3 separate regions of the Homo sapiens genome follow, and all the other regions are reported to be linked to region 1. Evidence: microRNA targets listed by miRTarBase, many of them from high-throughput screens and not tested one by one. Region 1 holds a microRNA gene; each other region holds the end of a gene's coding sequence.

Evidence for each region. The annotated mature microRNA hsa-miR-605-3p reads AGAAGGCACUAUGAGAUUUAGA and lies in region 1 at 2,210-2,231, shown strand. An mRNA with a match to its seed (bases 2 to 7 or 8) in the 3' UTR can be bound and repressed. Matches are read on the target gene's strand: a 7mer-m8 pairs with bases 2 to 8, a 7mer-A1 pairs with bases 2 to 7 and ends in A, and an 8mer does both.
Region 2: the mRNA of ATXN7L1 is a reported target of hsa-miR-605-3p. Seed matches in the 3' UTR shown: 7mer-m8 at 2,025-2,031 and 7mer-m8 at 172-178.
Region 3: miRTarBase lists CANX as a target of hsa-miR-605-3p. Seed matches in the 3' UTR shown: 7mer-A1 at 1,478-1,484.

Annotation. Positions count from the first base shown.
Region 1 is chr10:51,297,414-51,300,676 of GRCh38, forward strand. MIR605 (microRNA 605) reads left to right here and starts at 2,160; the gene lies at 2,160-2,242. All of the region lies in intron 2 of PRKG1 (protein kinase cGMP-dependent 1), which reads left to right.
Region 2 is chr7:105,604,846-105,608,108 of GRCh38, forward strand. It overlaps ATXN7L1 (ataxin 7 like 1), which reads right to left. Exons shown (of 12, transcript NM_020725.2): 12 at 1-3,045. The coding sequence ends at 3,007. Among named protein-coding and RNA genes, the nearest start is that of EFCAB10, 25 kb to the left of the region's middle.
Region 3 is chr5:179,728,129-179,731,391 of GRCh38, reverse strand. It overlaps CANX (calnexin), which reads right to left. Exons shown (of 15, transcript NM_001746.4): 15 at 1-2,801. The coding sequence ends at 2,748. Among named protein-coding and RNA genes, the nearest start is that of MAML1, 3.1 kb to the left of the region's middle.

The DNA.
Region 1 (3,263 bases):
TTGCTACTGGTTTATCTTTTTTCCTTTTAAAACGTGAATTCTTGGATTTTCATATTATAATTTTATACTTACCTTAAATTAGGATTGAGAGGAAACTTTGACAACACCTCTTAAAAGAAAATTATTAACTTGTAAAAATCATACTTTTAGGTTTGGGTAATAGCTGGGGAGAAAGCAAAAGCAAATCAGGAAGCTTGTAGGTGACTCATGTGCATTTCTATGTATGAGCAACAGGAATGGTAGAACTTTTGTTCCACTGCAGTTGTACAATCTAATTATTCACTGATCAATCTACACATACTGCATTACTATGTAGGTTTTAAGATGGCATCTTTGCCATATGTCTCTTTTTTAACCTTGATATCTTACATGTAATAGGTTTTCATCAGTTTTGATGAAATCATGATGATAATGATTACGATAATGCCTCCCATTATTTTCTCTTTAGTATAAGGCATTTAATGGCTTTTCCTAAAAAATAATGCAAGCAGTTCTTAACCCTAACAATGAGGGATAGAGTAGGTGTCCTTACCTACACTTGTTACTATAAGTGATATATTTATATAAAGAGATGTATGTAAAGGAAATTCATTCACTCATTCATTTATGTACCTAACCATTATTCCTTCATCAGTTCTTGTTAAGCACTTACTATATTAGGCCCTGTATACATTTTACATGAATTATCTCCTAACCTTATAACAATGGTGTGTAAAGAAACTAATATTATCCATTTTATAGATGATAAATTCATGATTAGGGATATTAATTATGATGTCCAAATTTGCACAGGTGGCAAATGATACATTTGAAATCTGAACCCACACAATCTAATTCAAGAGTTACATTGCCACTACTTCAAAAAATGTGGTTTATTTTATAGGCAAAGAAAAGGCACTGAATTGAATATTATGACTAAGCTTGTGATCTTAAAAGATTTAGGTTCTGAGTTGGACCTGATTAAAAATTCCAGCTCCACCAATTACTGATTACATGAACCTGGTGGGAGTTGTTCAGTCTTTCCATACTCCAGGTTCTTCCTTTTTCAACAGTGTTGCTGAGCCATTAAATGAAACAGCTTTATGTAGAAAGCACTCAGCATAGTAAAATCATTATAAATGTTAGCTATTACACACTTACTTCTCTCCTTTTCTGGAGGAAGGGAGAAGATGGGTTTTTATTTTACAATCTTATTTTATAAAACTATAAGCCTGGAGTCTAGGGGGTAATGTAGGAATTGAAATATGAAATGGTTCTGATCTAAGGTAGAAACATTAGATGGATGAAAGAATATCATGCCGATAGAATTAAAAATTGTTAGGTTGGAGTATTTTATGTGGGCTGAGAGTAAAATAAATCTACAATTTGTGTGAGTGGTAGAATGTGAAGCGATTAAATAGGATAGGGAATTGGAAGGGAAGTGCTAGGACAATTCCTGGCACATAGTAGGCATGCAACAAAAGGTTGGAAGCTTGATTGCTGTGATCTGTATGCAAAGATCATATGGTTGCATAAATGTGTTAATATTGTTCTTTGGTAAGTGTTTTCCTGGTATTTAAGTGCAATGGAGCACAAAGGTTTGTTGTCTAAAGTGTAATAATGAAAGGAATATGACCATTACTCCATCTGTCATTTTCACTCATGCCTTTAAATGAGCCCTTTGCTCCAATAAAATGGTTCAGTTAATGGTTCCTTAAAGCCACACACACTTACCTGTCTTTTTGCCTTTGATGAATTTATTGCTTAAGACTTTAGCCAGTATCTCTTTTTGCCCATTCTTTTTATCTGTATTTATTTTTATATGTTTTTTGAGATGGAGTCTCACTGTGTTACCCAGGCTAGAGTGCAGTGGTACGATCTCGGCTCACTGCAACCTCCGCCTCCTGGGTTCAAGCAATTCTCCTTCCTCAGCCTCCTGAATAGGTAGGATTACAGGCATCCTCCACCATGCCTGGCTAAGTTTTGTAATTTTAGTAGAGATGGGGTTTCACCATGTTGGCCAGGCTGGTCTTGAACTCCTGATCTCAGGTGATCCACCCACCTCGGCCTCCCAGAGTGCTGAGATTGCAGGTGTGAGCCACCATGCCCCGCCTCTTTTTGCTCATTCTTTAAAGTAGGAACTTTGGTAGAACTTTCACAGCCTGTAACATATGTCTCTAGCCCTAGCTTGGTTCTAAATCCCATGGTGCCTTCTCCTTGGGAAAAACAGAGAAGGCACTATGAGATTTAGAATCAAGTTAGGACTGCAGATACAGGTTACCTATGTTACAGGCTGACAGCCACAGGTATATTGCTCTCTGCACATGTGTTTTTTCCTGGCCTCTCAATGACATTATAAGCTTCTATTATACCTCATGTGGCGTAACTGCTCTGCAATAATAGAAATTCAATAAAGGACTCTTTAATTTACAATTAAAGTCAGGATTGAATTTTGTGGAAAATCTTGATGCAAATGTACAAAAGAACTTCAAGAAAATTAGAATGCCATGAGTCATGCATTTCCTGGTACTATTCATTCTTCTTTAGGTACTATCATTCTGCTCAACCTAACATTTCTACCACCTACACCTACCATCTGGAATTATAGGCAGAGGGTATGAAGGGTGTCAAATCTTGAAAGAAAATTGCCTTTTCTCCAAAGTTGATGAAACTAAACCACAGTTGATTGGATTACTTGCTCAGCAAGAGAGTAGAACCTTGTCTTTATGAATTAAATGTCACTATTTCGTCTATTTGAAGATGACCTTATAGAGGATCATGGCTTACGACAAGTTATTTTGCTGAGGCTTGAATTTGAATTGTGTGTTGGTGAATGAGGCACTGCACACACAGTCAGAGCAGCTGCTCTCCATGCAGCTTTTCTTCTCTTTGGTTTTCTGTATCATACACAGTAATCCTTGGGTGTTATTCACATCTACTTCTTGTGGAGTAATAGTATATTATAGTGGTATCATAAATTCGGGATTTATGAAAGTTGTGGGACATACCTTCATGTGAATCTCAGTGGGTTACTGTATTTAATGATTTTTTCTCTTTTGTTTTGATTAAGAAGCTCTTTGCTGGGATGCTGAGTTCCGATTTAAATATTATACACCCTTCTTATTTCTCTCTGCAAAATTATAGCCTTGCTGATGAATTTTGCTTTACTCTTGAGTGTGGTTTACTTTTGCAGCAAATACAAATTTAGTAAGTTAAATCTAAAAGCCACAGTTAAACACAGTTCTCCTTCAGAGGTAAGAACCATAACTGTTTCTGTGGACCCC
Region 2 (3,263 bases), not on the chromosome of region 1:
AGTGCCATGGGCCGACAGCATAACAAAATATAAGGTGTAAATAGAAAATTTCTTTTTTTCCTTTTTTAAAACAAGAGTTCACTGAGAATCAGCAATAATAGAATATGCTGTATAAACTATTCTCTACAAAGGTTGATCAGCATTATTTACAATTGGTACATTGATACAAAAGAAGGCATACAAGTTATCCAAGTCGCTTTTTTTTTTTTTTTTTTTTTTTTATGGCTGACAGGTCTATGCATTGCGTTATGCTTCACAACCAGAGCTTTCGAGCCTCTATGGCTGGCGACAAGTCAGGAGATCTTCAGGCAAAGAGGGGTGTGTGCAGTCAAGGGGCTGGGAGAGAAGACTGAGTGGGTGTGCAGAACAGAAGGACCCAGAGGACATCACCCTAAAAATGTTTTATAGGCTGCTCCAGTTTAACTCCATTAAGACAAACCCAAAGAGAACCTTTTATTTGCATTCCATTTTTCAAGCTGCAAGTTTTTAATACATCATTGTAAAGTAAACCTGTGGTTGACTGCCAAGGAAGAATACTGTGGGCTTTCCCTTTTTGCCCAGTTTTCCAGAAATATCCTCACCTTGGTCATAGCCAGTCTTTTGACAAAGTAAGCAGCATTCGATGAGGGTGGGGGGGGGGGTGGGGGCTCTTTATTCCAGCTTCCAATTCAAGATGTAGAGAGCTACAATGTCTAAACCTATTGAATTGCTCCTTTAGTCCTTGAGACATTATTTCTCAGAAGCAGCCACTTAATCTCTCAACCTTTGTTTTCCCTCTTTGACTATAAGAGTTTATAAATCAGAGGGTTATTTTGTTGTGGAGATTTTGTTTTTTGTTTTTACTCCTGCAAGTTTTACAACTCAAAATAAATTATAAAAAACAACAGACCTCTGAAACCGAACAAGACAAAATTGTGCAAAAATAACAAAGATATGTACATACTTTTCAGTCTGAAGAAATGTACAATAAAAACATAATTCAAAGAACATTTTAAAAATATAAACATTGCTTAAACTTTCCTAAGTTTCATATTGTTTCTGAAACTATTCTGGTCAGTTAGCTCTGTAATATAGTAAAACATAAATTATTACAAAATTAACACTATAAAAATTTACTTTAAGAATATCTTCTAAACTTTTTTTCAAAGGGTCTAACCTTGTTTATAATTTCTTAAACATTTATAAGTCTTAAAATCTCCTTAACCTTTTTTTTTTAAAAAAAGAAAAAGTAACAATCATCCCTTCAATTTGCAGTCTCTTTTCCCAAGACGTAAATAAACCAGCATATAAGTGCACTTTTAACACTGTAGAAATAAAAATGAAATCATCCGAACTAATGTCCTGGTACTTAATATCAACTCCTGATTTTTAAACAAATCATTTTATATTAAAAAATTTAGTAATCCTATAAGAAACACTCACTGTCAGTGCAATTCCATTGATGAAAATCACTCCATTTGCCTCCCGTCTTTGCAATTCCAATTGTGTGGTGAAACTTAACAGTAGTCTGATCTTTGGGTTGGGGGAACGGGAAAGAAAAGGAAAACTTTGGGGTGGGGATGAGGGTTCTGCCCAGCTATGAAACTAGCATTCATTTCTGATTTAAGGATGAAACAAAACCTCCCAGTATCTTTGCTATACATCATATACAAAGTTACATGATTAATAGCACAGAACACCTATTTTATGTTGTGAATTCCTTTCCTGATTATGATTCCCTACTAGAGCTTATGGTATTGCTGTTTCTTTTAAAACTCCAGTGTGAATAGTTCTATGGCTGCAGGGCTCCAGCGTGGCTCTTCCAAATGGCTGTTCTTCACTGAGCAGTGGCTGTCCTTACCATTCCTTCATGGGGATGGCTGTCTCTAAGACAGCAAAAGCTGATCCATGGGTGTGCTGATCCCACCAAGTCCCTGTGGCCCAGGGCATGGGGGTGGGTGGGAAATGCTATTATTTATTCTGACAAAAGGTTTGACACATACCCTTTTGTGGAAGCTCTCCCTGGGGGGCTCTTCCTAGCCCAGGAAGGCAGCCTAAGAACCTTTAGCAGCTGTGGTCACCGTGCCTCCTCATGGAGTGGCTTTCTGGGTTCTCACGACCTTTTTCCTGGGATTTCTCCCTCCTAGCTCACCCTGCTGTGGGCACTGGCACACTGATTCCTGGAAGGGATTCTGCAGATTCCTGACCAGCTCAGACCACCACAGTCTCCAGTTTTTTTAGGGATCATCTCCTACCCACCATGCTCTGCTTGCTGCCACCTTCCCAAACCTGTTCTGGCCCCTGTCCCTGACTGGTTTATCCTTTCTGAGCTGCACAGCTGGACAGTGGTATTAGGTAAACCACATCACTAAACGGCCACTGTTCTCAATCTCGCTTCTAGCATTTGGCTCCAGCCATGGTGGGCTGTGGAAACTGGATGAGGGAACCCCACCCACCCTCCAACTCTCCACTCCCAGCTCCTCCCCAGCAAAGCCCCCTCTCCCTGCACACAATCCTGAGGGGATCCTATGAGAGCCAGGTCCTTTGAAGACCAGTGAGGACCCAGAGAGTGGTAGACGTAGGGATGGAAGGAATCGGGTGGAGATGACAGGAAGAAAAAGGGCTCTGCCTGTGCTACAGTTCAAGAGCTTCAGAGCATGCCAACCTGGAACCAACATTCTGCAATGTCTGCTCTCATGGCTGGAGCAAAAGGATGGTACAGTAGCAGCATCAGGAGCTAGGGGAGTGACCCCAAATTTGGAAGAATGTAAAAACATGGCAAATGAAAGGAAAGACAGCGGAAACCAAACACTGGAACTGTTTTCTGTAAATCTCAAATTCACCTTCTTTTGCCTTTTTAACTAAAAATTGGTCAATTAAAAAAAGAAGAAGAAAGGCCAGAGTCACAGGGAGTGCACAGAAAACAGACTCTCCCCCCAGCCCACTCCCCTCCCTCCTCCTCCCCATGGCCTCCTCGGATGGGATTAGGTGGCCTGGAATTGATGTGGAAGTGGCTTCATAGTCTTGTTATGGAAGAGTCCTTATCCTGCCCGTTCTGTTTGTGTTCTTCTAGGAAAGAAAAGAAAAACTTGTTTCAAAACCATACAGTTGAGATTACCCATGAGAATTCAAGGATGGAGACTTAGTTTTCTCATCTATAATAGAAAGGACAATATCCCACCTCCCATATCCAGCAAAGGGCAGCTGGAATAGCAAGAGATGATGGATCTAAAGGACCCAATAGCAAATGAGGTGACGGATCCATGCATGTAAGGCAGTCACAG
Region 3 (3,263 bases), not on the chromosome of region 1:
CTTTTCTTTAGTATGTAATCTAAAAATTTAATAGCACATAAAAAACTGGGCTAACTTTCAAAAATACCCCTAAAGTATTTAAGTATATGTAAAATAATGGAGTCTGATTCTGAACAAATAATTTTCTAATAAAAATTTCAAAGTTCAATGGTTCCCCTAAGTCTTAAAGAATATTATCTACAAATTATCAGTAGCATTCCCTCCTTTTCTGAGCTGCTGTCCACACTATTATACAACAGAAACTACTGCACCGCAATCACATGGGCAGGAAGAGGCAAGGGCTAGACAGAAAAGACTGCATCAAACTCACGTGGTGAGATAAAAGTCATTATTTCACTGTCCATAATAGTTTCTGCCTAGTAGTGAACTCTCACATAGTGGCCAATTATACGAAGATCAACCCACTAATTGAACATAGTCACACACACACACTGAAGGTTACTATGAAGAAATTCAGTCAAAAGCAGACACTTAACACAGGGCTTTAATGTAACACCATTTAGTAACATGACAAATTGAAAAGTGAGGAGTACTTTGTGGATAAGAAAATGGAGGAACACATCTGATGGAGAGTGGGCATTTGACAACAATGGAACAGGTAACCAGCATGTAAAATCAAAATATAAGTGTCTTTTTAAGAGCTGAAAGCTGCTGCTGGTCATTCATTAATGTGTCAGACATTTAATCAGGATGCTGGACCTTCAAAATAACTGAAAAAAGAACCAAGAAAAGGCGTTTTTGTTTTCAACAAACTTTACTAAATAACCCTGGAAAGGCAATGAACGATCTGACAATTTAAGCTCTAATGATTTAAAGCTCAGCTAGAAGAAAGTGAGGCATGACATATACTGTCAACGGAGGGTGAAGGAGGCAGATTTCTGGAAATGCAATGATCCCACACATTTGCTTCAAGGAGAAACCTGCAGACATATTTTCAGGTCTTGCTAAGTAACAACTGTTTATTTGTAATCAATACATTTGGGAAAGTCTGCTATGTAGCTAAGGTCACTGTGACCACAGAACAACAGATGAAAAGGAAAAAGCACTGAACAGCAAGAAAAATACATCCCATCCTCAAAAGAATTTAAGTGAACAAACTTTAAAAAGAAAAAAAAATAGATACAGCCTTCATCTTTTACAAATATATTTCCTTCCCAATATCTTCCCAATATAAACACTGTGGAGTGTTTATATATTCAGTGCAAGAAACAGTATCATCGGTACATTTGAAAGCCTCTAAAGAACAACTGAAGCTAAAATAATATCTAACTCTGAATACGTTTCAGTGTAGAGTAATAATAACATTATTACACTATAGTGGTGTGGGAGAGGCTCTGATAGCACCCATCTGCATCCCGCATGAAAAAACAAACCTAAGATCACTTTTTTAAAAATTCTACAAGCCACGTTAAAAAAAAATTTGAACAGGACTGCTTTATTGTGTAATTTATGACACAACTGTTACATGAATTGCAAATGAAGGCTTAAAATATATAGCAGCTACAAAAAAAATCAGATAACTCATGCTTCATGTCACTCCTCCCACAAATACTTCTAGTCTGTTCAACTGCAGTCAATTCTGTATTGGTTTGCCTGTGAATTAGACTTCTCAAGTCTTTACACAGAGTAAAAGAAATGGATAAAAATCAAAGTATTTTTCTGTACTTTGTATCAATGTATTCTATTCTGTACTTTGACCCTGGAAAGGTATGGGTCTGCTTAAAAGAAAGAAGAAACATACACGTAATCACAATAAAGCTTAACATTATGCAGGGCTTATAATCATTTTCAGCAACGGACTGCAAGCTGCACTGTGAAGAAAATGCATAGCAGAGGAGAAAGCTGGGGATCTGAGGAAATAGGTAAGGAAAACAGTGTCAACACACAGTGGAAGAAGTGATGAAGACATCTATTCCGGAGCTCACGTGCCATGCCCTGCTAGCATTCCTTAACAAGCCACCTGCTCCAGAAGGCCACAGCCTGACCCTCCCAAGTGGAATATAAATGCCCAAGTGCCACATGAAGCCACCTCCTCCACTACCTAAAAAGCTGTCTGGGAACTGAGCTACAGAACACACACACTTTCTGGTCTAACAAACATCAAGTGAAAGAATTTTTTCTTATATATCTATTTTTAATACAACTTAAACGCAACTTTTATATGAATTTGGGCTTCTATTCAGTCCCTCTCCTCAATTTCCTTAGGAGGAACTCAATAATGGAAGCAAACAAAACAAGATTCTAACCACAAATGACTGCACTTTAAACGTAATTATCAATTTTGAGGGACAGAGGTGTGAATGTTTTACAATACCAAACTTTAAAAAAAATCTATTATAAAAACTGCAACTCATCTCCCTAACATTTTTAAATGGTGGTATTATGTTTGCACAAACAGATTAATACATTAAATTAAGCCAAGATCTTAAAGACTGGCAAAGTTCTATCATTCTATTTTAAAAACAAAGATGTTAAAAAAAAAAAAGTTAGTTTGCTTCATGTTACATTTCACAACCATTATGTTAAATGTTTTCTTTTCTACAGAAACAGGGTCCTTTATATCACAACTGCAAGTATTTACTGCTAGATGTTTAAAGTTACACAGACTAGTGTTCAACTGGAGCCTGCTGATGGTGATGTCTTGAAGTTTTCTGAATGTCAACCTAAGGTGTGCCAGGTCCTCTCCTAGGACCACTCTTGCAGGGGAGGAGGGAGAAGAAATCACAGATCAAGCTCTTAAGATTGTTTCACTCTCTTCGTGGCTTTCTGTTTCTTGGTGATCTGTTCAAAATTTCATCCTCCTATTGATTGAAAAGAAATTCATTATAATTAGCACATTTAAAAAATAATAAAAGTTCACCATATTTTCAAGATCAGCCAGACTGAGGGTAACTTATTTGAGGAAAAAAATGAGGAAAATGATGAGAAGAAAATGCACCAAGAAGAATGGTTGTCTCAGAGGTGGTGGAATTATGCCTACTCTAATTCAGTTTAGTCTTTATTGTTTTCTATAAACATACACTTTTCTCAATCTAACCCATAAACATTTTCTTAAAAAAGGATCAGACACTGTGATTTCTTAATCTTGCTTAATCCCAAACAATCTACTGGCCTATGGCACACTAGCCCCATTCTGAGGATAAGAAACCAAGGATTCATGAAGATGGAAGGCTATCCAAGTAGACTGACTCCAAGGCTGCTGCTCTGTACTCTATCACAAGTTGCTAAGATTGTAAATTACCCTATGAAAATATTCCCTTTTT